Regions from separate parts of the Homo sapiens genome. Here all the other regions are reported to be linked to region 1. The links are microRNA targets in miRTarBase. Many come from high-throughput screens and were not tested one by one. Region 1 holds a microRNA gene; each other region holds the end of a gene's coding sequence.

Region 1 (4,077 bases):
TGCGGTGGCTCACGCCTGTAATCCTAGCACTTAGGGAGGCCAAGGTGGGCGGATCACCTGAGGTCAGGAGTTCAAGACCGGCCTGGCCAACTTGGTGAAACCCTGTCTCTACTAAAAATACAAAAAATTAGCCGGGTGTGGTGGCGGGCACCTGTAATCCCAGCTACTTGGGAGACTGAGGCAGAAGAATTGCTTGAACAGAGGCGGAGGTTGCAGTGAGCTGAGATTGTGCCACTGCACTCCAGCCTGGGTGACAGAGCGAGACTCTTTCTCAAAAAAAACAAAAAAAAAACAAAAAACAAAAACCACAAAAACCTTTTTTCTATAGCAATGTGTCTCATTTTAAGTTTAACCAGTAACTCAGACTCTAGCTATCGCTCTCTGAACATGTGTAGCCCCAGCGCCCAGCTACTGCTCAGCTCATGCCCTGGTCAATGCAGCCTGTCTCCATTCCTTTCAGTTTGAATGAATTCACAACCTATGGCAGCGAAGAAAGCAGTAAGTCAGCCCTGTGCATCCGCAGGCCCAGTGGGCCCTGAGGAGGGGTGTGGCGGGAGAGTGTGGGAGGGAGGAGGGCTCCCCAGCTCAACAGGGGGAGGCTGTGCTCCCTCCTCAGAGCCATGACCAATGGAAGCTTCCACAGAGCTTGAAAGTGGATAATGCTGGAAAAGGATTCTTCCCAGACCATCCCTGTGTCTCCTTCCCCCCCTCATCCCTTTACGACTTGGTTAGGTATGCCAGGAGAGGGTGCTGGGGGTCTTTGGTCTCAAGGAAGGGATGATGTTCCAGTTGAGACTCAAGAAAAGGATTCTGAGCCTCAGAGCTTTGAAGGAGCCACTTGGTCCCTGACCTTCCTAGAGGCAAATCCCGATCCCTGTCAACCCAGACACGGGCTCCCCCCTGCCCTCGTCTGGGAGCTCAGCCTTCCCGTCCTTCCACAGCCAAACCGGCCTCCGTCCGGGCCCTGCTGTTTGACATCTCCTTCCTCATGCTGTGCCATGTGGCCCAGACCTATGGTTCAGAGGTGAGAGAGGGGAGCGACCGGGACGGGGGCTCAAGGGAAGGAGGTAACCCGGAACTCTCCCCACCTCACTGCCTGCGCCCCCGCAGCCTCTCAGCCAGTTAGTTCTGTGGGCCTCAGAAACCAGGTGCCCACCCGGGCTGGAGTCCGTAGAGGCACCTTCAGCCCTATGTTCACATTGACCACTAGGTGGCAGCATTGCCCCCGTCTGGCTCCCTTAGACCAGTTCGTCCCCAGTCTTTGGGCTGGGCTGGAGCAGCAGCCTGGCGGGAAACAGTGCAGCCCCAGGTCCAGCGCTGGCAGGCGCCGCGCCCTCCCCACTCGGCTGGTGCCCCCCTTCCCCTTTCCCAGGTGATTCTGTCCGAGTCGCGCACAGGAGCTGAGGTGCCCTTCTTCGAGACCTGGATGCAGACCTGCATGCCTGAGGAGGGCAAGATCCTGAACCCTGACCACCCCTGCTTCCGCCCCGACTCCACCAAAGTGGAGTCCCTGGTGGCCCTGCTCAACAACTCCTCGGAGATGAAGCTAGTGTCAGTGGCCCGGGCGCCCACTCCAAGGGTGGCGGTGGGGGCAGGGTCAAGACCCGCTCCCTGAGCCCGTTCCTTGCTCCCCTGTGCTGACTTCTCTGCACACCCGCAGGCAGATGAAGTGGCATGAGGCCTGTCTCAGCATCTCAGCCGCCATCTTGGAAATCCTCAATGCCTGGGAGAATGGGGTCCTGGCCTTCGAGTCCATCCAGGTAGCCCCGCCTTCCCAGCAGCGTTTGCTCCCCTGAGACACAGAGCCAGCCAGTGATGACTTGTTATATTTCGTAAGGGCAAGAAGACCTTTAATCCAGGAGCTCATGTTTTGATATTGATATTTTGTGTAATCGTTGTCTTAGCTACTCCCTCTGGCCCAGGTAGCTCTGGGAAGATCAAACTTGTGGAGAGAGGTGTGGAATGTGGCCCGGGACTCCACCCGCTGCACTTAGCTGCCCGCAGAGGCTGAGAAGGTGATGTTGGCTCAAGAAAGGGAGATAGATGGTAGCCCATCACCTTTCCGTCTCCCCTAGAAAATCACTGATAACATCAAAGGGAAGGTATGCAGTCTGGCGGTGTGTGCTGTGGCTTGGCTTGTGGCCCACGTCCGGATGCTGGGGCTGGATGAGCGTGAGAAGTCGCTGCAGATGATCCGCCAGCTGGCAGGGCCACTGTTTAGTGAGAACACCCTGCAGTTCTACAATGAGAGGTCGGTAACCTGCCTTCCCTTCTCAGACCCTTCAAGTGTGTTGTGAGAAGTCAGCACATCCAATAACAAGCACCCCTCTCTTTTCTGACCTTCGCAAACACGCTACTTGATCACTCACTCACTTTCCTATTCATGCATTCACTCATCTGACTCAGCAAACATGTACTGTGTCTCTGTGGCAGAAGCGTTTATATGCCAGCACCTGCTGTGTTGTCAGAAATGCAGACCCTAAACAGGGTCTGCCCGCAGAGACTCAAGTTCTAGACAACTAGCTCCCAAAAGAACAAAGCTGTGTGACTGTCTAGGAGCTAGGAACCTGTCTGTAGATTTTACAGGCCATGCCCCACCCTCAGTTACCTCTTAGGACAGTTTCCTGCCCTGGCTCTTCAGGGGCTTGGAGGACTTCCCTGGTGACCAGTTACGTTGAGTTCATTCACCCAACCAATAAGTTGTTTGCTTTTTTTAATTGTAAAAAACACATAAGATTTGCCATCTTAGCCATGTTTAAGTGTACTGTTCAGTAGTGTTAAGTATATTCACACTGTTGTGTAACAGGTCTCCAGAACTTTCTTGCATCTCTGAAACTCCATACCCACTGAACAACAGCTTCCTATTTTCCCCTCCCTCCAGCTCCTGGTAACTACCATTTTACTTTGTGTGTCTAGGAATTTGACTACTTTATACTTTTTGTTGTTGTTGTTGTTGAGACAAGGTCTTACCCTTGCCCAGATCAGAGTGAGTCTCACTGCAACCTCAAATTCCTGGGCTCAAGTGATCCTCTCGCCTCAGCCTCCCGAGTAGCTGGGACTGCAGGCCCACAGCCGGCTAATTTTTCTAGTCTTTGTAGAGACAGGGTCTCACTATATTGCCAGGTCTTGAACTCCTGGCCTTGAGTGATCCTCTCACCGTGGTCTCCCAAAGTGCTGGGATTACAGGCGTGACCCACCGTGCCCTGCTGAATTTGACTACTTTTTAGATGCCTCATTTAACTGGAATCATACAGTCCTTGCCTTTTCGTGACTCACTGACTTCACTCAGCATGGTGTCCTCAAAGCTCATCCATGTAGTAGCACGTGACAGGAATTCCTTCCTTTTTAAGGCTGAATAATACTCTGTTGTGGGCCGGGCGTGGTGGCTCACGCCTGCAATCCTAGCACTTTGGGAGGCTGAGGTGAGTGGCTCACTTGAGGTCAGGAGTTTAAGGCCAGCCTGACCAACATGGTGAAACCTTGGCCTTACTAAAAATATAAAAATGAGCAGGGAGTGGTGGCAGGCGCCTGCAATCCCAGCTACTTGGGAGGCTGAGACAGGAGAATTGCTTGAACCCAGGAAGCGGAGGTTGCAGTGAGCCGAGATCACGCCACTGCACTCCAGCCTGGGTGAAAGAGTGAGACTCTGTCTCAAAAAACAAAACAAAAACAAAAGAAACCTCTATTGTGTGGCTATACCACATCTTGATCCCTCCTCTGTCAGTGGACACTTCAGTTGCTTCCACCTTTGGGCTATAGTGAATAGTGCTGCTGTGAACATGGGTGTTTACCAGCTAATACGTTTTGGGTGTTGCCATGTCTTTATGGCAACGTTGAGGATGTCTTTATTTATTTATTTATGTACTTATTTTTGAGACGGCGTTTCGCTCTGTCACCCAGGCTGGAGTGCTGTGGCACTATCTAGGCTCACTGCAATCTCCGCCTCCTGGGTTCAAGAGATTCTCCTGCCTCAGCCTCCCGAGTAGCCGGGATTACAGGCATGTGCCACCACACCCGGCTAATTTTTGTATTTTTGGTAGAGATGGGGTTTCACCATGTTGGCCAGGCTGGTCTCGA
Region 2 (4,077 bases), not on the chromosome of region 1:
AAATGCCAGGCTTTGGGGGTAAGCTTTTTCCCCTGCATCTCTACCTGGTGGAGGTAAAGTCCACATGGGAACAACTTTCAGGAGTTTTCAAGCCCTCAACTGTAAGACACCAAGTCTATCATTGATGATGTCTTCTCTTTGAAGGAATTAGGCCTTGGTATCATCGTGGAAGACGTCTATCATTAGGCGAAATTTAGAAAGATGAGAATTATCTTGATTGCCAAAATTTTCCCGATGAGAAATCAACCTCGATTTTTAAAAGTAAACTTTTTGAGGTAACTGCAGATTCCCTTTTATTTGTAAGAAATAATACAGAGAGATTTGTGTAGCCTTTTACCCAATTTCCTTTAATGGTAACTGTTATGCAAAACTATAGTATAATATCACAATCAGCATATTGGTGTTGCTACAATCAAGACAGAACATTCCATCACTGCAGGATCATCCCTCCTGCTGCCCTTTTAAAGCCACACCCACCTCCCTCCTCCCTGGCAACCACTATTCCATCCTTTGCGTCTATAAATGTTCCCTTTCAAGAATCCTGGCTGGACGCGGTGGCTCATGCCTATAGTCTCAGCACTTTGGGGGGCCAAGGTGGGTAGATCACCTCAGATCAGGAGTTCCAGACCAGCCTGGGCAACATGGTGAAACCCTGTCTCTATGAAAAATACAAAAATTAGCTGGGCATGGTTGCACGCACCTGTAGTCCCAGCTACTCTGGAGGCTGAGATGGGAGGATTGCTTGACCCTGGGAGGCAGAGGTTGCAGTGAGCCGAGAGCGTGCCACTGCGCTCCAGCCTGGGTAACAGAGTGACAGCCTGTCTCAACAAAAAAAAAAAAAAAAAAAAAGAAAAGAAAAAGAATGTTATATAAATGGAATTATACATGTCACATTTGGGGACTGGCTTTTTCTGCTCAGCATAATTCCCTGGAAATTCATCTAGCAGACCTAGATAGTTTTGTTGTTGTAGTAACATGAAGTGGATCTATTCCTCTGGTCATACCATTCCAAATCTAAATTTTTATGCAGGGAATAGAGGTACACTGTTTTGGGGGATATTTATCTTAAGGGATCTCAAACAATTTTTTGAATTGTTAACATGAGACTGTCTTCTTTCAAAGAGCCTGTGTACCATCCAGAAAGACTGAGTAGGGGGCCAATATTATATTCCAGACTCTATTTTTACTCAGATAGAACTGAACATATGGGGTACAGTAGTGGTACAGTTTATCACTAGATACATTTTAGTTTGCCTTTTTGTCTTAAATGTCTTAAATGTAAAAATTTAAAGAAAAATAGATATTCCTATGGGGGCTTTTTAAATTTCTTTAAACTGCTATGGACAGACTTGTAATTTTTTTTTTTTTTTTTGAGACGGAGTCTTGTTTTGTCGCCCAGGCTGGAGTGCAGTGGTGTGATCTTGGCTCACTGCAACCTCCATCTCCTGGGTAAAAGCAATTCTCCTGCCTCAGCCTCCCAAGTAGCTGGAATTACAGGTGTGCACCACCAATGGCTGGCTAATTTTTGTATTTTTAGTAGAGATGGGGTTTTGCAATGTTGGTCAGGCTGGTCTCGAACTTCTGACCTCAGTAATCCACCTACCTCGGCCTCCCAAAGTGCTGAGATTAGAGGCGTGAGCCACCACGCTCAGCCTTGCCATTGATTCTTAATAACCTGTTTTTATTTCACCAGTAACATTAACTTATTGTAACAGAACAGATGAGCCAAAAGAACAAACAGCTGTTCAAATCTGTACACATATTACCAGGGCTAGACTTTCTAAAAAGTCAAAAAACAACAGATGTGGAGAAAAGGGAATGCTTATACACTATTGGTGGGAATGTAAATTAGTACAACCTCTATGAAAAACAGCACGGAAATTTCTCATGGAACTAAAAATAGAACTACCATTCTACCCAGCAATCCCACTACTGGGTATCTTCTTAAAGGAAAATAAATCATTCTATCCAAAAGATACCTGCACTTGTATATCTATTGCAGCACAATTCACAAGAGCAAAGATATGGAATCAACCTAAGTATCCATCAGCAGATGATGGGATAAAGAAAACGTTGTATATGTATACCAGGGGATATTACTCAGCCATATAAAGAGAATGAAATTACGGCTTTTGCAGCAACGTGGGTGGAACTGGAGGCTATTATCTTAAGTGAAACAACTCAGAAAAAAATAAGAAAATAAAGATTTTTAAAGAACCCTCAGAAACAAAAAAAAATACCACATGTTTTCACTTATAAGTGGGAGTTAAACAGGGTGTATACAGGGTCATGGAGTGTGGAATAATAGACACTGGAGGCTTGGAAAGGTGGGAGGGGGTGAGGGATGAGCAATTACCTTTTGGGTACAATGTACAGTATTTTGGTGATGGTTACACTAAAAGCCCAGATTTCCCCACTACACAATATATCCATGTAACAAAACTGCACCTGTGACCAGGTGTGGTGGCTCACACCTGCAACCCCAGCGCCAAGGTGGGCAGATCACCTGAGGTCAGGAGTTCGAGACCAGCCTGGCCAACATGGCAAAACCCCGTCTCTACTAAAAATACAAAAATTAGCCAGCCATGGTGGCAAGCACCTGTAATCCCAGCTACTCGGGAGGCTGAGGCAAGAGAATCACTTGAACCCAGGAGGCGGAGGTTGCAGTGAACCGAGATCACACGACTGCACTCCAGCCTGGGTGACAGAGTGAGACTCCTCAAGAAAAAACAAACAAACAAACAAAAACTGCAACTGTACTCCCTAACTCTATAAAAATAAAAAATACTTTTCTAAAAGAATTTTTTTTTTTATACTTTAAGTTCTGGGATACATATGCAGAACGTGCAGTTTTGTTACATAGGTATACATGTGCCATGGTGGTTTGCTGTACCCATCAACCGGTCACCTACATCAGGTATGTCTCCTAATGTTATCCCTCCCCTAACCCCCTAGTCCCCGACAGGCCCCAGTGTGTGATGTTCCCTTCCCTGTGTCCATGTGTTCTCATTGTTCAACTCCCACTTATGAGTGAGAACATGCTTGGTTTTCTGATCTTGTGATAGTTTGCTGAGAATGATGGTTTCCAGCTTCATCCATGTCCCTGCAAAGGACATGAACTCATCCCTTTTTATGGCTCCATAGTATTCCATGGTGTATATGTGCCACATTTTCTTAAAAAGAACTTTTAAAGACACCTGGTTTAAGCAAGTACAATTGAGTTAACTATGTAGTTTCAGTATACTTCTAAGTACTACAGCTCATGCTAATAGCAAAAATATACATGATACATCAAGTTAACAGTATGCCTCTCCCTCTAAATGTTAGGTCATGATAGCATTTGGAAGTCTTCAAAAGGAAAAATTCCTCATATGCTGTATTCTAAATTCCGTATTTTTCTATCAGCTCCTTTGCTTTAGAAATATAGGCACTCGTCGCATCTTCCGTCGACAACCCTAGAAAGATACAAACAGGTTATCTCCCTGATTGGTGCACTGGGAAATTAAGAAAGTTTGCTTTAAACTTGTGAAAGACTAAAAAACCTTTTTTGAGGTTCCATGCTTCCCATTTGGCTTTGCCTTTTAAATCTAGCATTCCTGGACACGCTGGCAAAAGAAGGAGACATGCATTTGCAGGTTAACATTTTACTGTGCACTTCTATAGACATTGTTCAAACGGAGTATATTACTATATTTTAAGTAATTATATATTATAATCGCAATTAATATATTAATTGTAACATATGAATATATTAATATTAATAATATATAATACCAATATTAATGTCTCCAACTATTGCTTGTTTGTAAAGCCCATAGAGTTCTTTCAGTTCTCCATCATCTGGTCTTGCTTTCAGCTTCCTCACATCTTCTGCAGCCCTGTCAAAATCAGCCTAAAGGAAGAACAAACAAACAAACAAAAGGAGCATTTTACCACCAAGGAATAGGAACTCAAAGAGCAGGAAGAGGAAGGTTCCAAGTAGAAATGAACTTCTGCTGCTCTGGTTCTATCAGAATCATCTTAATTTACTTGAATTCCTAGGAGTTCACCTCTCCTGGGACTTACCTAATATGAGGA
Region 3 (4,077 bases), not on the chromosome of region 1:
GCCTGACCAACATGGAAAAACCTCGTCTCTACTAAAAATACTGGCTGGGCATGGTGGTGCATGCCTGTAATCCCAGCTACTCGGGAGGCTGAGGCAGGAGAATTGCTTGAAACCTGGGAGGTGGAGGTTGCAGTGAACCAAGATCGTGCCATTGCACTCCAGCCTGGGCAACAAGAGCAAAACTACATCTCACAAAAAATAAAAAAATAAGTGGCATAGATGTGTATAGGACTTTGAATTTTTCTTGGGGACTGACATTCTAGGGGCAGTGGCGAGTCTAAACTTACTATTGAGTACAATGTCCATGCCTGCATGTACTTTTGGGGTGAGAATCCTCAGGTTCTCAAGGACTCCCCAACTCCAAGAACCACTGTGGTAGAAACAGATGACTACAACCTGAGAACTTTCACAGAAGCAAATTCTTGCCTCCTTGCCTCCCCTCTCTCCCCTGCAGGGATTGGAGTTTGGAATCCTGCCTTCGATGTCACCCCCCACGACCTCATCACTGGTGGCATCATCACAGAACTGGGGGTCTTTGCCCCTGAGGAGCTCCGGACAGCCCTAACCACCACCATCTCTTCCAGGGATGGAACCCTAGATGGACCCCAGATGTAACCAACTCAGCTCTCCCTAGCCTGCCTCTCTAGGTTTTTCAATACATTTCTTGAATGGCTACCCAAAAGCTGACCGTCCAGCCCCTGACCACACTTGTTCCTAGTGCAGGGAGCTCAGACAGGGCCTTCCATCTAGAGCCCAGCACCTAGAGCCAGGCTGCCCAGATTCAAATCCTGACTCCGCCACTTTTCCCACTGTATGATCTTGGGCAAGTCACTTCACCTCTCTGTGCCTTGGTTTCCTCATTTATAAAATGTGGATAACAGGCCGGGCGCAGTGGCTCACACCTGTAATCCCAGCACTTTGGGAGGCCGAGGCAGGTGGATCACAAGATCAGGAGATTGAGACCATCCTGGCTAACATGGTGAAACCCCATCTCTACTAAAAATACAAAAAATTAGCCGGGTGTGGTGGTGGGCACCTGCAGTCCCAGCTACTTGGGAGGCTGAGGCAGGAGAATGGCGTGAAACTGGGAGGCAGAGCTTGCAGTGAGCCGAGATAGCGCCACTGCACTCCAGCCTGGGCAACAGAGCGAGACTCCGTCTCAAAAATAAATATAATTAATTAATTATTTAATTAAAAAAATAAAAAATAAATGTGGATAATACTAGTACCTCCCTCTTAAGGTCAGGGCTGGAGCTAGGGTGACATCTCCAGGGCAGAATTTTAAGAGGACACCAAAAAAGCTCAGCAACCAAGATAAAAAATATTTTAAAGCAATATTTTGTTTTGGGTTTTTTTTTTTTGAGATCAAGTATCACTCGTTACCCAGGCTGGAATGTAGAGGCGAGATCTCAGCTCACTGAAACCTGTGCCTCCCCGGTTCAAGCGATTCTCCTGCCACAGCCTCCTGAGTAGCTGGGATTACAGGCATGCGCCACCATGCCCAGCTAATTTTTCTATTTTTAGTAGAGACATGATTTCACCATGTTGGCCAGGCTGGTCTCGAACTCCTGACTCAAATGATCCCCCTGCCTCAGCCTCCCAAAGTGCTGGGACTACAGGCATGAGCCACTGTGCCTGACCTTACAGCAGTATTTTTTAAAAATCAAAATTAATGCAAAAATCCATGATGAGGCCAGGCTTGGTGGCTCATGCCTGTAATTCCAGCACTTTGGGAGGATCCCTTGAGCCCAGGTGTTTGAGACCAGTTTGGGTAACATAGGAAGAGCTTGTCTCTACAAACAAAAATTTAAAAACAATGAGCTGGGCATGGAACTCACACCTCTAGCCCCAGCTACTCAGGCTGAAGTGGGAGGATGGCTTGAGCCCAGGAGTTCAAGGATGCAGTGTGCTTTGATTGCACTACTGCACTTCACCCTAAGCAACAGAGTGAGACCCCATCTCTTTAAAAAAAAAAAAAAATCCATGATGAACAAAACAAGTATTTGTTTGAGACGGGGTCTCGCTCTGTCGCCCAGGCTGGAGTACAGTGGTGCCATCTCAGCTCACTGCAACCTCCGCCTTCTGGGTTCAAGCGACTCTCCTGCCTCAGCCTCCCGAGTAGCTGGGATTACAGGAGCCTGGCACTATGCCTGGCTAATTTTTGTATTTTTATTGGAGACACCATGTTAGTCGTGGCTGGTCTCCAACTCCTGACCTCGGGTGATCCGCGCCCCGCGGCCTCCGAAAGTGCTGGGATTACAAGCGTGAGCCACCGTGCCCGGCCTAAATAAAATTTTGAAGAGGCTAGAACCCCGCACTTGTGCCTTGAGCTTACTGACCTCAACACCCTGGTTCCACTAAAACTTTATTTACAAAATTATGCTGCCGGTCTGCAGGATGTAGTTTAACAATTTGATTATTTTGGATATTAAAATATTTTTTAAGTCTTGAAAATATTGTTTACTATTACCAAAGTTTTTGAACCTTCTTAAATTCTGTACCAGAGGTGAGTGCCACACCCTAACCTAGTCTGAGTTTTTATGTGTAAAGATCATAAAACGTTGTAAGTTTTCTAAAACACATAAGCTCTCAATAAACGTTAGCTTATCATTGTCACCGTTTTGTTCGTAATGTTTGAAAACTCCAACTGTGATCCACTACACTACCCTTGTGGGATGCTGTCTCTTTAACTCTGTGCCACGTTGTATCCCGTGAGTTCTTGCGTTTTTCCGCCCCGCTGTATCCCATGGTTCCCTGTGCCTTCCGGCTACGACTGCTCACAGTCCCGCCTCTTCCGCTGCGTGCCGGACCATGGCGCAGGGGCAGCGCAAGTTTCAGGCGCACAAACCCGCAAAGAGTAAGACGGCAGCGGCAGCCTCTGAAAAGAATCGGGGCCCAAGAAAAGGCGGTAAGGAGCGGCCCGGGGACTTGGGGGCGAGGTGGACCCCCGGCTTCCCGGCCTCACGTGAGCACATCTTTCCCCAGGTCGTGTTATCGCTCCCAAGAAGGCGCGCGTCGTGCAGCAGCAAAAGCTCAAGAAGGTGTGCGGGGGCGAGAGATGGAGCCCGGAGGGCGGCGAGTAGCGAGGGGTGGAACCCGGAGGACGGCGAGGGGGGATGGGTGGAGCCCGGGGATCAGTGAGGGGAGAGGGTGGATCCTGGGGACGAGCTAGGAGCGAGGGGATAGAGCCAGGGGCCGCGTTAGGAGCGAAGGATGGAGCCCGGGGCGCAGAGAGGGGTAAGAGGTGGAAGCTGGCGAGGGATAGGGGCTGGGGGACGTGCTAGGGACGAGAGATGAAATCTGGAGGCCGGCGAGGGAAGGAGCACAGGGATCGGCAAAGGGCAAGGGATGAGGCCTGGAGGACTCCCAGCTCTGTGGGCCTCCCTTTTCTTCCTTGTGCAAGGGGTGCAGGAACACCACTTACCACTTCAAAAGGGCCTCGTAGAAGCAAGACCTGCGGCCCAAAAAGGGTTCCAATAACGTCAGCCTCTTGCTGTTACTGTTTTCTTTAATTGAACTCAGGAAGACAGCGAGGTGACATGGGAAGGGAATTGAAAGCCCAGCTTTGTAAACCTAGAACAGCAGAGGGCTCAAAGAAGTGTGAGGGTGCGTTGGTTATCGTCATTTTTTTTTGAGTCAGGGTCTCACTGTTGCCCAGGCTGGAGTGCAGTGGCCCCATTATAGCTCACTGCAGCCTCAGCCTCCTGGACTTAGGCAATCTTTCCGTCTCAGCCTCTCGAGTAGGTAGAATTGCAGGTGCTCGCCAATACGCGGCTAATTTTATTTTTTTTGTATTTTTGGTAGAGACAGGTTTCACTATGCTGCTCGGGCTGGTCTTGAACTCCTGGCCTCAAGGCATCCTCCCGCCTCTGCCTCCCAAAATGCTGGGATTACAGGCGTGAGCCACCCTATGGTTGTTTTTAAGTGCAACATTTATATGTAGATGGGTAAGGTTGAGCTTGTAAAGAAGTTGGAAGGAGATTTAAAACTGGTTTTGGTGGGAGTCAAACCTGGGTTTGAATTGTACTCCACAGTAAACAGCCCTGTGATCTTGAGCAAATTGTTTCGTCACCCCAG
Region 4 (4,000 bases), not on the chromosome of region 1:
CATATGTATCCGCCACCTTCAGTACTCTTATTGATATATTATTGAAATCCTTCAAGATGCCAGGATGAGGGTATGAGGATCAACTGGTAGAGTATAAAACCCCAGGCCATGCAGTGGGTCCCAGGAGTGATGGGGTTAAGGGGAGTGCCCACAGCCCAGTTCACATGAAGTAGGTCACCCTGTTGCGCACGTACCTAGACTATCCCAGGTAAGTGAGATATCAGCTGGTCAAACTAATGGGCTCATCCTGTCTTTCTAGGTGGTTTCATCAGTTTCAATGGCTCCTGGAGGGTCCAGGGAATCCTGGCCATGTCTCGGTCCCTGGGGGATTATCCGCTGAAAAATCTCAACGTGGTCATCCCAGACCCAGACATCCTGACCTTTGACCTGGACAAGCTTCAGCCTGAGTTCATGATCTTGGCATCAGATGGTCTCTGGGATGCTTTCAGCAATGAAGAAGCAGTTCGATTCATCAAGGAGCGCTTGGATGAACCTCACTTTGGGGCCAAGAGCATAGTTTTACAGTCATTTTACAGAGGCTGCCCTGACAATATAACAGTCATGGTGGTGAAGTTCAGAAATAGCAGCAAAACAGAAGAGCAGTGAACCCTTCAGGGGTCTCAGCTGCCTTAGACTAAAGGACTTTCAACACACTGGTCTCTTTTAATTTAGTGAAAAGTGTGGGAGTTGTAATTAGGATCATCCACCCCAGACATGGAATCCCCCCTCCCTGGTGGTCTTAGGTCTATAATCAGTGACGAACAGAGGGTGCCCTTGGCCAATGTAGTTAAGAAACTGGAAAATGGTTTCTTCATGTTTTCCCAACTCTTTCATCCAGTGTCCAAAATATATAAGTAAATAGCTGTAGAGTCACATATATGAAGTGAATAGCATATGTGTCATTTAGTCTCCCTGAAGATTCTTTTCAAGATCCTGTTCAGGGTCCTCCAGGCATCAGCTGTTGTGTCCTCTCTTTGTAACAGTGGACAGGACAGACCACCCAGTGCTGCAGGAGACAGGCCACTGCGTCACCTGTGAGTGGTCAGGGGCTGATGTGGCAACACCCTCTGCCAAGAGACAGAGCTGTCCTGAGAATGCTTTGTCCTTCTGAGCCCATGTTTTCTGCTCAGTAGCAGCTTGGAAGCAGATTTGGAATGGTTTACTATTTTGGCTGCTCTTGGGGACTGCGAGAAGCAGAGAGAATGAGAGACCAGTGGCAACTGCCTGCACAGCAGAGATAACCCTCTTCCCTTGCTTCCTTTAATAGTTAAATAGACTTTGTATACCACCTGACCAGCCTTTGTGCATTTATCCTAATCATGCATGACCGTTAACCTTTTGCTTAGTCCTTACCATATGTAATAGGCAGCTGTTAAATTCACCAACAGATACCCTGATTTTTCATCTTACGTGACCAAGAAACCACGTTAGGGGAAATGAAAAAAGCAAGCCACAATACCATGATTCCTTCCATTTTCAACAGTAGATGAAGGAAATGATACTGAATGAGTCACAGTGTTCCCTGGCAAGTAAGCTGTTTGCATTGAGAAAGGAGTGAGCTGGTGAGGTTACCACCCTGAATTGAGCTCCAGCTGCCAGTTTTTGTGTTTTTCCTTGCCCCTTTCCAAGTGGTTTTCAAGTGTCAGGCAGTGTTCTGAGAAGCAGCAGCCTATAACTGTATGTGTGTTCCTTGAAGCCAGGTGCAGAGTTCCCAGCTACTGCAGCTTGGGATTTGGTGGGAAACTACTGGGATAAGCTTCTCCTTGACAATGGAAAGGCAGCAGTCTTCAACATTTGGTTGCAAATCTCCATCCACATCAGGGAGCTTTCCCCAGGCAAATACAAACCGCCCCGTGGCCTGCAGGCCTGCAGGGGAGGCAGCAAAGGGACCTGGCAGTTGCAACACAGTAAGTCAGGAATTCAAGCGTGAACCCATATTGATAAGTGGGCCAGAATTATTTAGGGGCCTGGCTTGCTGCTCTCCATTTCCTGTATCGCTAATTTATCATTTTTCCAACCTTGGTATTTTATATTATTTAGAGAAAATGCTGGGTCACTCTCTTTGCCTAAGGTGACTCAAACAGCCAAACGAAACTTCCGTTGCCTCCCAGCCCTCTGTATCCACCTGGTTTTGTTCTTTCCCTGTGAGCATTTGTGGTTATAGCTTCCCATATGCCACATTCACCGGCCACCTCCTCGCCGTGGAACCCTGCCCTCTCCCCTCCTGCTGCTGTAGAGTTTTCCCAAAGCAGTGTCCAGGAGAGAATTTGAGAGAGTGAAGAAATTGCCTTGTAGATGTGGAGGGCTGCAATCTGTCTTGATTTCTCCAAGCACTTAACTTTCTTTGACTGCACTGAGAATTGCTAATGATTTCCCATGAGATTTGCTTACTTTTGTATACTGTATTTTCCAGCATTACAGAACCTTGGTTATTGTTTTTTAGCCATAGAATCTTCTAGTAAAAAATATCTGCCACCATTTTAGATTTAAGCATTTGCCTATGGGGAGACACTGAATATGTGGATGTGTGTATTAATATTTGGGGTGGGGACAGGGAAGGGAATGTGGAAAACAAATGCTGGCTGTGAGCAGTGCTGAGATGGCCAGGCCAGGCGGCTGAGTTTGCTTGGAAATTCAGGACATTCTGACTCCTAAGAGTTGCCCCCACCCACCATCAAACTGAAATCAGCACCAATGGTGTCAGCACTTTACAGCCCATAGCCAACTTTCTTTATTTTTAACGTAGCACAAAAATGTATAATAGCAAGGAAAAGACATTTTTAAATTCCGGTTATTTTTATTGTCTAAAATGAAAGCAACAGTGTTTTGATAAAGATGAAAAAGAAAAGCTACTAAATTAGTAAATCAGTGGTTACGTGCCCTGCAGAATTTCTTAACAGATGGTGCTGAGTGCACGAGTTACATAACTTTCTCTCTAATTGAGGTTCACAAGGCGTCTTCTAAATTTTGCTTTGTACAATTAATTCATTTCTGATGTTAACCAAATAGAGTGTATATATCCTACTCCCATTACTGCCTCTTTCCCCCCTACTATGGCTTGTAGATTTTCAAAAGATAGAAGTTCTAGGCAAAACTGTAGCAGTTTCATTAATAGTTGTTAGGATAGTTATATCTAAAATCAGAGTATTTTGTTCCCTTCCTTCTGGAGCTCTCTCTCCCTAGCCCTTTTCCAGCTGTTGGGGATGTGCAGACATCACTCCTGGGGGTGCCCTATGGTACACTGGCTGCTCCCCAGGGACCTGGGAATGCTGAATCTAGCCATTAGGGAAATTGATTTGAGATGTTTGCATGTGAAGCTTCCCTAAGCAGCACTGCCAAAGCTTTGGAATTGTCACCCAAGGCTTCCTAGACTCCCTAGCTAGCTCGAGTTCGAATTGCCAATAGTCCCCATGGTGCCAAATTTTGGGATGGTTTTACAGTCTTTTAGAAATGAAGACAGGAATGGCCATGTGCTTCTGAGACCCCAGCACGATGCCAGGCCCAGGTCTCCATTAATGCAGTGCTCTGCTGCTGCTCCACTGGCAATTTGTACTCTTAACATAGGTTGGGGGAGGGACAGCTAGGGAAATTTTTTTTAATTAATTGTATCTAAAATTCTTTCATCATAGGAATAAACAACACATATAGAAAGCTCCAAAGCTGTTCCCAAGACCTGTATTATTTATTTTATATGACCAACTTGCCCCAAGGCAATTAACTCTGAATTGCTGTTCTAATGTGACATATCTGTGTACATATGTACATAGTACTGGTAACCAGTGGCTGCATTTTATTCCTTGCTGTGGACTGAGGTATTGGCTTCTTGAATCTTGTATATGTCATAAGAATATTATACAGAGAGTGTTATAGTGAAGGATGTAAGCTGGATAATTTAAAACAGACCTTATTTCATACAAGTGTAATTATTACATCATTTTGGGTAAATGGCAAACAGGATTGCATGAGAGTGATGGCATCATCATTTCAATTGAATCTGAAG
Region 5 (4,077 bases), not on the chromosome of region 1:
GCCAGGAATGCTTTTCCCTGCTTTTCTCACAATGCATTTATTTAGCTCTGTCATCACCATCCTTCACCCTCCCACCTAAAGTAGGCCTCAAAGTCATTCTCTATGCCATCATCCTGTTTTCATTCTTGGCACAACATTTATTTGCCACTGGACATGCATTATTTACTCGTTTTTGTTTGCTTGTTTTTTGGGTCTCACTCTGCCACACAGGCTGGAGTGCAGTGGTGCAATCAGGGCTCATTGCAGCCTCAACCTCCTGGACTCATTTAATTGCTTATTTGTTTATTTCTCCTCCCTCTAGAATATAGGCACCACGGAGCAGGGCTTTCTTGTTTTGTTTCATCTATTTTGTTCACTGCGATAGCCCCTACATAGGACCAGTTACATAATACATGCTCAATAATGCTTTATCAAGTGAATTAGAGACAAGATTCCTGATGGTTCTGTGTGCAGGTTGGAGGCAGTCAGCTTTCCAATCATGGCTCTGCTGTTAACTGGCTGTGTGATCTTGGAGATGCTCCTTAACCTCTCTGAGCTTCAGTTTCCTCATCTTGAAAATTGTGTGCACACACTGCATATACCTGTGCAGGCTTTAAATGCAGTCATACTTATTATTGGAGTAACTCCATTTCCTAAGCATTATGTGCCATGCACTGGGTTGCATGCTCTTTATCCGTGCATCAGGGAGGGTTTGGGAGCACTGTGCCTGGCTTGTGAAAAGCCCTCAGTACCTAGGAGTCGTCATGACTGACACAAATGAGGGTGGTTGGGCTCCTGGGTGAGGAAGCCTCCTGGCCTGTGATTCTCTGGTGCCTCTGTCCTAGCAGCCTCCCACCCTGTCTGCCTAGATCCATCCCCCTCCCTCCTGCTCCGTTTCTATTTCTGTCTTTCTCTCCTCCTCCCCTGGCCTCAGGGGGCCCCTGGCTGGCAAGAAGCCTTCCTCCTTCTTCCCCAAGATCAGGAAGGTGTTATCACTGCAGGGCCCCTGCAAGGACTGGGATGTCTGTCCCTCTCCTCTCCCCAACCAGCTTTCCTTCCCCAGCCACAGCCCTCAGCCTCACCTGAGAAACTCCTCTCCCCACACCATCCTCCATGCCCTCCGCCAGGGTCCCTCAGATTCCAGGCAGAGCGACACAAGAGGTCTTGTCCCTGAGCTCACCAGGCTAGCTGTGGATATCCAAGCTCAGCTAAGCTCATGGGGGCCATACCCCAGCTTCCGGACACAGACCCCAGAGGCAGCATAGTGTAGGGGTACAATCAAACTTCCAGCTCCGCTATTTATTCATTGGGGGGATGGAGGGACTACGGCAAGTGACTTCATCTCTCTGTGGTTCAGGTTCTTGTCTGTAAAATGGGACCAAGGATAGATCTACCCTACCCCACTGAGTTGTGAGGTCTCAGAGGGTGGAATGAATATTCAATAACTGCTCAGCAGTACAGTGCTCTAGTTGAGTATTAAAGGAGTTCAGGGAATGTCACCCCAAAATATGGCACCCTGGTATGCTGATTATTTTAAATTAAAGGCACTTAGAGATCCATAGATGCTGGAAGAGGCTTTCCTCCTATGTCTTCTTATCTGCCTAAAGATCAAAAAGAACACAAGTGCCTTCTGTCCTCTCCCTGACATTTCATTATCTTTAACAGGAAAAAAAGACAGAGAAATGTCTACACCTGGACGGACTTTGTCACAAGAAATTATCTGTCTGTCAGTCTCAAATTCCAGAGACATTTACAAGCTAAATTCTATCTCCTGGACCCATTTATTTTCCCCAAAATCATTTATTACCCCTCAAAATTGCCTTCCTTTCCCCATCTCCCCTCCTGTGAAGAAAGGTATATAAGTATATAAACCTCACTGGGTTATTGGGTAATCACTTTCCTGTGATTTTCCTAGTGCATGTTAAATACCCTCCATATTCCTTTTCTCTTGTTAATCTATTGTCAGCCCATTCCAGTGAAATTTCAGAGAGTGAAGGGGAAGCTGTCTTTTCACCCCTATAGTAGAGACTCAGAAGTTGGCCTGCCTGCCTTTTTAAATCCCAGTTTTACCACCTTGGGCCAGTTATTTAACTTTTCTGGGCCAAAATTCCCTCATCTGGAAAACAGGATAATAATACCGATATGTCCTGGTGTTGTGAGAATTAAATGACTTAAGTGCTTGGCACATAGTAAGTAAGTATTCACTAAGCGTTAGCTATTATGATCATTTTATTTTTGTGATTATTCCCCACCTCTAAGTCTCTCAGAGGATAAAAGCCTGTCTGCCAGTCTCCTCCGGCCCCAGTTAGTCATCTTCCCATCTTCCTTCAGTCTCACTTAGAGTCCTTATGCTGCAATCTAGGTCACCCTCCCCCAACACACACACACACACACACACACACACACACACACACACACTACACGCGGACACACATACAGACACACACACAGGTCAGCAGGGCCTCAGACACAGAAAAAAGTTTAATTCTGCTGCGGCGGAGGGTCCCGGCTCCGGTAGGGAGGGGGATTTGGTTTTGGATTTTGTTCGTGTGGGGATTTATTTGGGAGAGTCTGGTCCTTCCAGTGGGACCTGCCCGGGAGAATGAGTAAAGAGAAGAAATCAGGAGAGACAGGGAGACTAGACAAAACCAGGGAGGGCCGAGGGACAAGAGACGACAGGACAGAGAGAAAGGAGAGGCAAATAGGGAAAGACAGGCACTACAGAGAGACGACAAGAGGGCGGGATAGAGACAAACGAGGGAAACAGAGAAAGGGGGACCCCAAGCCAGACCCGACCGGACCAGGAATGTGCGTGGGGTGGGGTGGGAGGCTTTGGAGGCCGCCGCGGGACAGAATAGGATCTAGTCCAGCCAGATACAAGAAATGGGCCCCTCGCCCCGGCCCCGGGTGACGGGCTGGGGGAGGGGGCTCGTGTCTCAGTGCTGCAGTGTCAGGGGGCCCTGCCCCTCCCCGCGCTTCGCTGTGTAAGGCACCGGCTCCAGCGAGGTCCGCGAGCGCGCGAGGGGAGGGGTAGGAGGGGGGTCGAGGAGTCCATAGGGGAAGGGAGGCCGGCAGCCGGTCCCCGAACCCCGCCCTGGGCACGGGGGCGTGGCCTCGAGCCGCAGCCCGAGGCTGCCCCGCCCCCTCCCGGGGACAAGGGCGCGTCTCCACTCTGGTCCAATGTCTTGGCGCTGCGCTTTCTCCCAGTCCCGCCCCAGCGTCCGTGCGGCTGGGCGTTTGGTCTGCGGCACCCAGGCGTCCCGGCGCCCGCCCGCCGCTCACACGGTACTCTCCAGCATCCACTCGGTGCTGGTGAAAGCCAGGCACGCCCTGGCGGAGCCCAGCCCCAGGTCTCCATCCTCCCCGGCCGCGCCCCCTCCAGCCCCGTCCAGGTGCGGCGTGGACCGGTGGCGCTTTGTCCGCCGGGCGCGGCGCGGGTAACTGTGGCTCTGGAATAGTGCCCCGTAGTCCCCGTCGAACGAATAGCGCTGCTGCGGCCTCGGCCGGGCCGCGGCTCCCCCAGGAACTAGAGCTAGAGTAGGGGGCGCCGAGGTTGGTGGCTCCAGGGCGCCGGATCGGCTCCTTCGAGGGCCCACCGCGGCCCGAGACTCCTCCCCGGAAGTTTCCTCGGATGGCAGCAGGCACAGCGAGGTGGCCGAGCCGCCCAGAGAACGTCCAAGGACCACCTCCGGCTCCGCGGATGCCGTCTCGGCCTCCATGGCCTTGGCCTCGACGGCGACGGCGGGGGCAGCCTGGGACTCCACCTCGCGCAGCGCCTCGTAGTGGTCCTGGGCCGGCAGGGCCGGGGCCTGTGCCGCGCCTGTGCCTGCGCCGTTGGTCTGCGAGCACACGTGGCTGACCCGCGGGAGCGACCTGGAGCCCTTGACGCGGCGGCTGTCCCCGTCGCCATACACCTTATAGCGGATCATGAGCAGAACGATGAAGACGAGGACCGAGGCGACGATGACGCCCCCGATGGCGATGATCATGGTGCCGCCCAAGAAATGGGCCCTCAGCGGGCGGCAGGGCGCCGGATCCCCAGCGGTGGTGAACTGTACACAGCCCACCACTCGCGTTGCCGGCAGCGCTGTGGCCCCG
Region 6 (4,077 bases), not on the chromosome of region 1:
TGTCCAGTGTACTCTGAACAGTGAGAACAAAAGGATAACAAGAAATAATTAATCATTTAACATTATCCTATTAAAATATTGTATAATTGCTTAGAGTACAATTTATATGAATTCATGTTCTTATATTCTTTTTACTCATAATCGCAATTTTAGGGATCAAAGGAAGCAGTTCCAGGTACTGGTAGAGAACAAGTTTTATGAATGGTTGATTAATACAGGACATCGCCAACAGCTGGACAGCCTTGTACCCCCTGCAGCAGGCTCCAAACAAGCAGCTGGATAAGGATCTTACATGCAGACACTGGTAGGCATTTATACCACTTAAAACAGATTCTTTTGGGGAAATCTTTCAAGCATAAAAAAAAGGCACAGAATATTATATACTAAACATGCCCAAATTTTTTCTACCGCTCCTACCAGCATACACGGACCTTTATGTACCCATATTTACCATATTTTATAGTGAGAAAACCAACCAAAATATTCAGATGGAGCCTATAGAATTTGGGGCCAATATAATGGCCAAATTTTGTCTTATTTTGCTTTTTGCCTGGGACAAGTTGTACTGTCCAAAGATACCACATTCCCCCATACATAGTTCTAAGTTTTATTCTCCTTTTCTAAACCTTTCCTCTTATCCATTCCCCTCACAAAAACCAATTTACAAATTAGCTGATCTTTGCTAATTACACATATTAGCAGTAATAAATTACCAGAATTAATCCAAATGAAGATTTGATTACTGAACACTAGAAGATCATGGATTAAATAGAAGAGAATATGCATACAAACAAATTTACTGGAAGTAAATTTAATCCAGACATATGGTATTCTTTTTTTTTTTTTTGAGACTGAGTCTCTGTCTCTCGCCCAGGCTGGAGTGCAGTGGCGCCATCTCAGCTCACTGCAGCTTCCGCCTCCTGGGTTCAAGTGATTCTCGCACCTCAGTCTCCGGAGTAGCTGGGAAAACAGGCATGCACCACCACAGCTGGCTAATTTTTGTATTTGTAGTAGAGGCTGGGTTTCACCATGTTGGCCAGGCTGGTCTCAAAACTCCTGACCTCAGGTGATCCACTTGCCTTGGCTTCCCAAAGTGATGGGAGTACAGGCATAAACCACTGCGCCCAGCCCCAAACGTATGGTATTCTTTTTTAATAGAGATTAGTATACTGTGTTAGTTTAAAGTTTTTTTTTTTTTTTTTTTTGAGGCAGAGTCTCCCTCTGTCACCTAGGCTGGAGTTGCAGTGGCACAATCTCAGTTCACTGCAAGCTCCGCTCCCCCGGTTCAAGCAATTCTCCTGCCTCAGCCTACCAAGTAGCTGAGATTACAGGCACGCACCACCGTGCCCAGCTAATTTTTGTATGTTTAGTAGAGACTTAGTTTCACCATGTTGGCTGGGCTGATCTTGAACTCCTAAACTCCTGAACATCGCCCACCTCGGCTTCCCAAAGTGTTGGGATTACAGACGTGAGCCACCGGAACTGGCCTAAAGTATTTTTAAATGCTAGCAATAGAAAACAGACAAAGGACAATAATAGATAGTTCACAGAAAAATACTTAGAGACACAAAAATGCTTACTTAAAATTAAAGAAATGTAAAATACTATTTTTTATTAGACTGGCAAAGAGCAAAAGCTGGTAGTACACAATACTGGCAAAACATTTCGTTTACCACTAGGAAAGTGTATATGTAACCTCTGTGGGGGGCAGTTTGACAAAATCAAAATTAAAAATACAAATTTTCTCTGACTCAGCGATTTCTTTTTTCTTTTTCTAGAGATGAGGTCTAATTCTCTTACAGGCTAAAGTGCAGTGGCACAATCATAGCTCACTGCAGCCTCCAACTCCTGCGCTCAAGCAATCCTGTCTCAGCTGGGACTGCAGGTGCATGCTATCACACCCAATTGATCTTTTTATTTTTCTTTAGAGACAGGGTCTCACTTTGTTGTCCAGGCTGGTCTTAAACTCCTGGCTTAAAGCGTTCCTCCTGCCTCGGCCTCCCAAAGTGCTGGGATTACAGGCATGAGCTACTGCACCTGCCCTGATTTAGCAGTTTCACTTATTATTAATAGAATTTATCTTACAGATAAACTCATGTATGTAGGGATCAATTAATTAATTAATTAATTTATTTATTTATTTTTGAGATGGAGTCTCACTCTGTCCCCCAAACTGGAGTGCAGTGGTGCGGTCTCGGCTCACTGCAACCGTCACTTCCCAGGTTCAAGTGATTCTCCTGTCTCAGCCTCCTGAGTAGCTGAGATTACAGGAACCGGCCACCGCACCCGGCTAATTTTTGTATTTTTAGTAGAGACGAGGTTTCACCATGATGGCCCAGGCTGGTCTTGAACTCCTGACCTCAGGTGATCTGCCCACCTTGGCCTCCCAAAGTGCTGGGATTACAGGCATGAGCGACTGCTTCTGGCCTATTTATTTAATTTTTAAATTGACAGATGAATTGTATATATTTATCATTTCCAGCATGATGTTTTGAAATATATATGCATGTGGAATGGCCAAATCAAGCTAGTTAACATTAGAACCTCACATAGTTGTCATTTTTGCAGTGAGAACACTTAAAATCTACTCTCTTTGTTTTTTTCAAGATCACACAGTATTGTTATTAACAACAGTCACCATGTTGTACATTAGATCTCTTCAATGTATTCCTCTTAGCTAACCGAAATTTTGTAACTGAAGATGTTTGATGTGGCATTGTTTAAAAAAACTGTGGACTAGAAACACCCCAAATGCAGTGTATTTATATGCTAATTATATGCCTAACAATCTTTGAAAGAATATAAAGAAATTATAAACAGTGTTTGTCTTTGAGGAATGAGATTGGGTGTCTAGGGTGGGAGAAAACTTCTTAAAAATTTTATTGAGATAAAATATTACCACATAACATTATGGGAAGTAAATTCACCTTTTTAAAGTAAAGAATTCAGTAGCTTTTAAGTATATTCAGAAGTTTGTGCAACTATCACCACTAAAAAATCTAGAACATTTTCATCACCTTCAAAATAAAGCTCGTACACATTGTAGGCCACTCCTTATTCCTCCAACCCCTACATTTCCTCTTCCCCTTAGTCCTTGGCACCACTAATCTACTTTGTCCATTTTGGACATTTTATGTAAATGGAATCATATAACATGTGGCTTCTTGTGTCTGGGTTCTTTCAGTTAGTGTAGTGTTTTCAAGATTCATCCATGTAGCCATGTATCAGTACTGCATTCTTTTTCATGGCCAGATAATATTCCATCGTGTGGATCTACCATTTTGTTTATCTGTTGATCAGTTGATGGACATTTGGCTTGTGTCTACTTTTCAGCTGTTGTGAGTAATGCTGCTGTGTACATTTGTGTACAAGTTTTTGTGTAGACATTTGTTTTTATTTCTCATGGATATATACCTAGAAGCGGAATTGTGAGGAATATATTTAACTTTTAAAGGAATTGCAGTTTTCCAAAGCTGTAAAAGTGTATTTTTTGCTTTAAATATTTACATTTCTTAAGGGTGTATTTTTTTTTAAAGAATTTAGCATGCCTGTAATCCCAGCACTTCGGGAGGCCGAGACGGGTGGATCACGAGGTCAGGAGATCAAGACCATCCTGGCTAATACAGTGAAACCCTGTCTCTACTAAAAAATACAAAAAATTAGCCGGGCGTGGTGGCAGGTGCCTGTAGTCCCAGCTACTCAGGAGGCTGAGGCAGGAGAATGGCGTGAACCTTGGAGGCGAAGCTTGCAGTGAGCCGAGAGCACCCCACTGCACTCCAGCCTGGGCGACAGAGCGAGACTCCGTCTTAAAAAAAAAAAAAAAAAAGAATTTAGCAATATTTATTAATAAATGCTGAGAATTAAGAATTAGCAATTTGGCTGAGCGCAGTGGCCTATGTCTCTAATCCCAGCACTTTGGGAGGCTGAGGTGAGAGGATCACTTGAGGCCAGGAGTTTGAGACCAGCCTGGGCAATATAATGAGACCCTGTCTCTACAAAAAAATTAAAAATTAGCTGAGCATGGTGGCACATGCCTGTAATCCCAGCTACTCTGGACACAGACTGGAGGATCTCTTG
Region 7 (4,077 bases), not on the chromosome of region 1:
GTGTCTCACCCTCAAGTAGTGGGGATTACAGGAACACACCACCGTGCCCAACTAAGTTTTGTATTTTTGATAGAGATGGGGTTTCACCATGTTGGCCAAGCTGGCCAAGCTGATCACCCCTGACCTCAGGTGATCTGTTCGCCTCAGCCTCCCAAAGTGCTGGAATTACAGGCATGTGCCACCACACCCAGCTAATTTTTGTATTTTTAGTAGAAATGTGGTTTTACCATGTTGGCCAGGCTGGGCTCGAACTCCTGACCTCAAGTGATCTGCCTGCCTTGGCCTCCCAAAGTGCTGGGATTACAGGTGTGAGCCACTGCGCCCAGCCAAGATTTTTTATCTTTGATTTTCTGAAGTTTGACTACGATATGCCTAGGTGTCTTTTTTTTTGGCATTTACTATGCTTGCTGTTTTCTGAATTTCTTGAATCTACAGTCTGATGTTTGACATTAACTTGGGGAAATTTTCAGTCTTTATTGCTTCTAATATTTCTTCTGTTAGTTTCTTTCTTATGATTTCCCATGATTCATGTTATGTCTTTTGTAGTTGTCTCTCAGTTCTTGGATTTTGTTTTGTATTTTTTGCCTTTGCTTTTCAGTTTCTAGTGTCATATCCTCAAGCTCAGAGATTATTTCCTCAGCCACATCCAGTCTACTAATAATCCCATCAAAGGCATTCTTCATTTCTATTCCAATGTTGTTAACTTCTAGCATTTCTTTTGATTCTTAGACTTTCCATCTCTCTGCTTACATTACTCATTTGTTCTTGGATGTTGTGTTTCTCCTTTAAAGTCTTGAGCACATTAATCATAGTTTAAAAAAAAATTGGTCTGATTAATTCCAACATTCTTGCAATATCTGAATCTGGTTCTAGTGCTCGTTCTGTCTTTTCAAATTGTTTTTTGTCTTTTCATATGCCTTATAATTCCTTCTTGGTAGTGGACACGATGTGCTGAGAAAGGAAAAAAAAAAAGGTCTTCATTCTCATCTTCACCTGGAGTAGGCTAAGGAGCAGGAGGAGGAGGAGGAGGGGTTGGTTTTGCTGTCTCAAGTGAGGCAGAGGCGGAAGAGGTGACAGGGGAGCCAGGCACACTTGGTATAACTGTCTCCCAGGCTGGAGTGCAGTGGCACCATCTCGGCTCCCTGCAAGCTCCGCCTCCCGGGTTCACGGGTTCACGCCATTCTCCTGCCTCAGCCTCCGGAGCAGCTGGGATTACAGGCGCCCTCCACCACGTCCCGCTAATTTTTTGTATTTTCAGTAGAGACGGGGGTTTCACCGCGTTAGCCAGGATGGTCTCCGTCTCCTGACCTCGTGATCCGCCAGCCTCGGCCTCCCAAAGTGCTGGGATTACAGGCGTGAGCCACCGTACCCGGCCCACACTTGGTATAACTTCAATTGAAAAAAAAATCTACATATAACTGGACCCGTGTAGAACCTATGTTGTTCAAGGGTCAACTGTATATAATTTTTGTGTAAGCATGTGATTCAGCAGTATGAAGTCTAAAATCAGCAAAGGTCACCTTTAGTATATAAAAAAAGCACAAAATAGTTTAAATGAGAAATTTCATTTTTATTGAATAAAAACATTATACAAACATGAAGATATATTCAAATATTTGAATACATTAGTTTTTTTTGTAACTTTATATGCTTCATATAAAAGTACTGAGTTCAAAGCAGTATTATACTTGCTAATCATTACCAAAATTCTGATTTTGCTATACTTTTCATCAGGATTTCTGGGACACCTCCCAACTAAACATATTAAGATTCTAGAAAAATAGGCCGGGCGCGGTGGCTCATGCCTATAATCCTAGCACTTTGGGAGGCTGAGGCAGGCAGATCACCTGAGGTCGGGAGTTCGAGACCAGCCTGACCGACATGGAGAAACTCCATCTTTACTAAAAAATAGAAACTTAGCCAGGCATGGTGGCGCATGCCTGTAATCTCAGCTACTCAGGAGGCTGAGGCAGGAGAATCACTTGAACCCGGGAGGTGGAGGTTGCAGTGAGCCGAGATCGTGCCATTGCACTCCATCCTGTGCAACAAGAGTGAAACTCCGTCTCAAAAAAAAAAAAAAAATTCTAGAAAAATGAAAGATAACAAGTCTCCCAAATAAGAGCAGTTTGAGGGTGAGAAATAGCAGTTCTCTAGGAATGCATAACTAAACCATAGTGTACATTTAAGTTACCAAGTTTTAAAAAATTTTAACAATTCTTGGCCGGGAATGGTGGCTAACGCCTGCAATTCTAGCACTTTGGGAGGCCGAGGCAGACGGATCACCTGAGGTATGGAGTTCGAGACCAGCCTGGCCAACATGGTGGAACCCCGTCTCTACTAAAAGTAGCCAGGTATGGTGGCGGGTGCCTGTAATCCCAGCTACTTGGGAGGCTGAGGCAGAATTGCTTGAACCAAGGAGGCGGAAGTTGCAGTGAGCTGAGATTGAGCCATTGCACTCCAGCCTGGGCGACAGAGCAAGACTCCATCTCAAAAAAAAAAAAAAAAAAAAAAAAAAAAAAGCCAGGCAAGGTGGCTCATACCTGTAATCCCAACACATTGGGAGGCCGAGGTGGGCGGATCATGAGGTCAGGAGGTCAAGACCATCCTGGCTGTTATAACACAGTGAAACCCCGTCTCTAATAAAAATACAAAAAATTAGCCGGGCGTGGTGGTGGGTGCCTGTAGTCCCAGCTACTCGGGAGGCTGAGGCAGGAGAATGGCGTGAACCCGGGAGGCGGAACTTGCAGTGAGCCGAGATCATGCCACTGCACTCCAGCCTGGGCAACAGAGTGAGACTCCATCTCAAAAAAAAAAAAAAAAAAAATTCTTATAGTTCCCTTTCAAAAAGCACACTGACCATATTTTTAAATACATATCTTAAATATCTAAAACAATTTTTTTCTCCATAGCTCCCCCAACCCCCCAAAATCCTAGTGAAACGGATAGCAAGTATGTAGTTTGAGAAGGTGCTGTGGACACTGGCTATATGTGAAATGTTCGGATTGCCACACTTCCTCTGAGTAAAGCAATTACGATGGAAAAGTGGACTACAGCTTATATAATTTTGCTCTTTTGTGAAGGTTGTTATGTGGCATAAAATTGTCCTATAATGTTTAAAGACCTTTTCCTGGCCCTACAATATTAATCATGCTCATTATATAACAGTTGGGAAATACAGAAAAGTACAGAAAAGAAAATAATAACACTAATCTTAACACAGAGATACCTACTGGCAACATTTTGGTGTTTATTTCCTGTCTTTTTCCAAAGCATACAAAAATACAAATATATACATATAAAAATGCAGTTACATTGTTGACAGATTTGATATTTTGCCTTCTTCACTGAATATAATGGTCTTGTGTTGTTCTCCTGTCCCCTTATATACTGTCAGAATTTATATTGCCAAAAAACTCTTTCATTGACTGAATATACCATAATGTAAAATAATTTAGAGTATTTATGATTTTATAGCTTTTAAAGTTATATTTTGTATATTCATTTTTTTTGTATAAAATGTTAAAAGTTATAAAATGGAAGTATATAACATATTTTGACAACTGATGCTTCCCAGCATGCAATTCAACAGGTTCAAGCCCCCTTTATGCTTCCCTAACTCCTCAAAGGCTGGGAAGGGACAGCAGGTTAGACACTGCACGAGGATATTACACCCAGGCATTGAAGGTCACATTCCAGAAGGTCCAGTTGAAAGTGACTGAGTGCATTTTAAGTCACACATGGATAACTGAAGGTCTGTTTGTAAAGTTCACATGCTGAACTCCTACAAGCTGTAAAACAGAGTTGATAGGTTTGTGATCCAACCTATTCCTATCGCGGTGTATAAAATGGATGTTGTTACCTAGAAGAGAATAAGAATAAAAGGCTGAGGCATAGTATTATTCATCAGATTTACTGCTTACTAAAATCAAGGAAGCTTTTCAACCTTTAATTAGTCCAAAGGGAAAAATTAATTACCTGGAGTGCATTATATTCTCTATATAATGCCATAATAATTTTAAATCATGGTAATAAAGTATGACAAGGATTATGGTTAAATAAGAGCCATACTTGATGTTT

Evidence for each region. Region 1 holds the annotated microRNA hsa-miR-6884-5p (AGAGGCUGAGAAGGUGAUGUUG, at 2,003-2,024, shown strand). A microRNA usually pairs through its seed, bases 2 to 8, with sites in the 3' UTR of a target mRNA and lowers its output. Matches are read on the target gene's strand: a 7mer-m8 pairs with bases 2 to 8, a 7mer-A1 pairs with bases 2 to 7 and ends in A, and an 8mer does both.
Region 2: the mRNA of ACBD7 is a reported target of hsa-miR-6884-5p. Seed matches in the 3' UTR shown: 7mer-m8 at 2,620-2,626 and 7mer-m8 at 721-727.
Region 3: miRTarBase lists MRI1 as a target of hsa-miR-6884-5p. Seed matches in the 3' UTR shown: 7mer-m8 at 1,459-1,465, 7mer-m8 at 1,593-1,599 and 7mer-m8 at 2,108-2,114.
Region 4: the mRNA of PPM1L is a reported target of hsa-miR-6884-5p. The part of its 3' UTR that is shown has no 7-base or 8-base seed match.
Region 5: the mRNA of LRFN1 is a reported target of hsa-miR-6884-5p. Seed matches in the 3' UTR shown: 7mer-m8 at 3,108-3,114.
Region 6: the mRNA of TBCCD1 is a reported target of hsa-miR-6884-5p. The part of its 3' UTR that is shown has no 7-base or 8-base seed match.
Region 7: the mRNA of PRXL2C is a reported target of hsa-miR-6884-5p. Seed matches in the 3' UTR shown: 7mer-m8 at 2,700-2,706, 7mer-m8 at 2,388-2,394, 7mer-m8 at 1,961-1,967 and 7mer-m8 at 1,826-1,832.

Annotation. Positions count from the first base shown.
Region 1 is chr17:40,024,330-40,028,406 of GRCh38, reverse strand. MIR6884 (microRNA 6884) reads left to right here and starts at 1,998; the gene lies at 1,998-2,075. It overlaps MED24 (mediator complex subunit 24), which reads left to right. Exons shown (of 26, transcript NM_014815.4): 15 at 461-498; 16 at 942-1,024; 17 at 1,373-1,551; 18 at 1,661-1,760; 19 at 2,076-2,251. It overlaps SNORD124 (small nucleolar RNA, C/D box 124), which reads left to right and starts at 762; the gene lies at 762-865. RefSeq lists an enhancer at 850-1,760.
Region 2 is chr10:15,075,149-15,079,225 of GRCh38, forward strand. It overlaps ACBD7 (acyl-CoA binding domain containing 7), which reads right to left. Exons shown (of 4, transcript NM_001039844.3): 2 at 3,775-3,892; 3 at 3,543-3,605; 4 at 327-3,455. The coding sequence ends at 3,382. ACBD7-DCLRE1CP1 (ACBD7-DCLRE1CP1 readthrough) reads right to left here. Exons shown (of 8, transcript NR_144471.1): 2 at 3,775-3,892. Among named protein-coding and RNA genes, the nearest start is that of ACBD7, 12 kb to the right of the region's middle.
Region 3 is chr19:13,771,667-13,775,743 of GRCh38, forward strand. MRI1 (methylthioribose-1-phosphate isomerase 1) reads left to right here. Exons shown (of 6, transcript NM_001031727.4): 6 at 455-2,616. The coding sequence ends at 615. It overlaps C19orf53 (chromosome 19 open reading frame 53), which reads left to right and starts at 2,790. Exons shown (of 3, transcript NM_014047.3): 1 at 2,790-2,908; 2 at 2,986-3,041. The coding sequence starts at 2,812. RefSeq lists enhancers at 2,481-2,550, 2,621-2,820, 2,797-3,326, 3,327-3,855.
Region 4 is chr3:161,068,552-161,072,551 of GRCh38, forward strand. It overlaps PPM1L (protein phosphatase, Mg2+/Mn2+ dependent 1L), which reads left to right. Exons shown (of 4, transcript NM_139245.4): 4 at 260-4,000. The coding sequence ends at 606. Among named protein-coding and RNA genes, the nearest start is that of B3GALNT1, 35 kb to the right of the region's middle. RefSeq lists an enhancer at 1,145-1,194.
Region 5 is chr19:39,304,376-39,308,452 of GRCh38, forward strand. It overlaps LRFN1 (leucine rich repeat and fibronectin type III domain containing 1), which reads right to left. Exons shown (of 5, transcript NM_020862.2): 5 at 2,191-4,077. The coding sequence ends at 3,258. Among named protein-coding and RNA genes, the nearest start is that of IFNL1, 10 kb to the left of the region's middle. RefSeq lists an enhancer at 3,452-3,953.
Region 6 is chr3:186,547,356-186,551,432 of GRCh38, reverse strand. TBCCD1 (TBCC domain containing 1) reads left to right here. Exons shown (of 8, transcript NM_018138.5): 7 at 154-304. The coding sequence ends at 283. Among named protein-coding and RNA genes, the nearest start is that of CRYGS, 5.0 kb to the right of the region's middle.
Region 7 is chr9:96,638,028-96,642,104 of GRCh38, forward strand. PRXL2C (peroxiredoxin like 2C) reads right to left here. Exons shown (of 6, transcript NM_153698.2): 6 at 1,550-3,859. The coding sequence ends at 3,732. Among named protein-coding and RNA genes, the nearest start is that of PRXL2C, 15 kb to the right of the region's middle.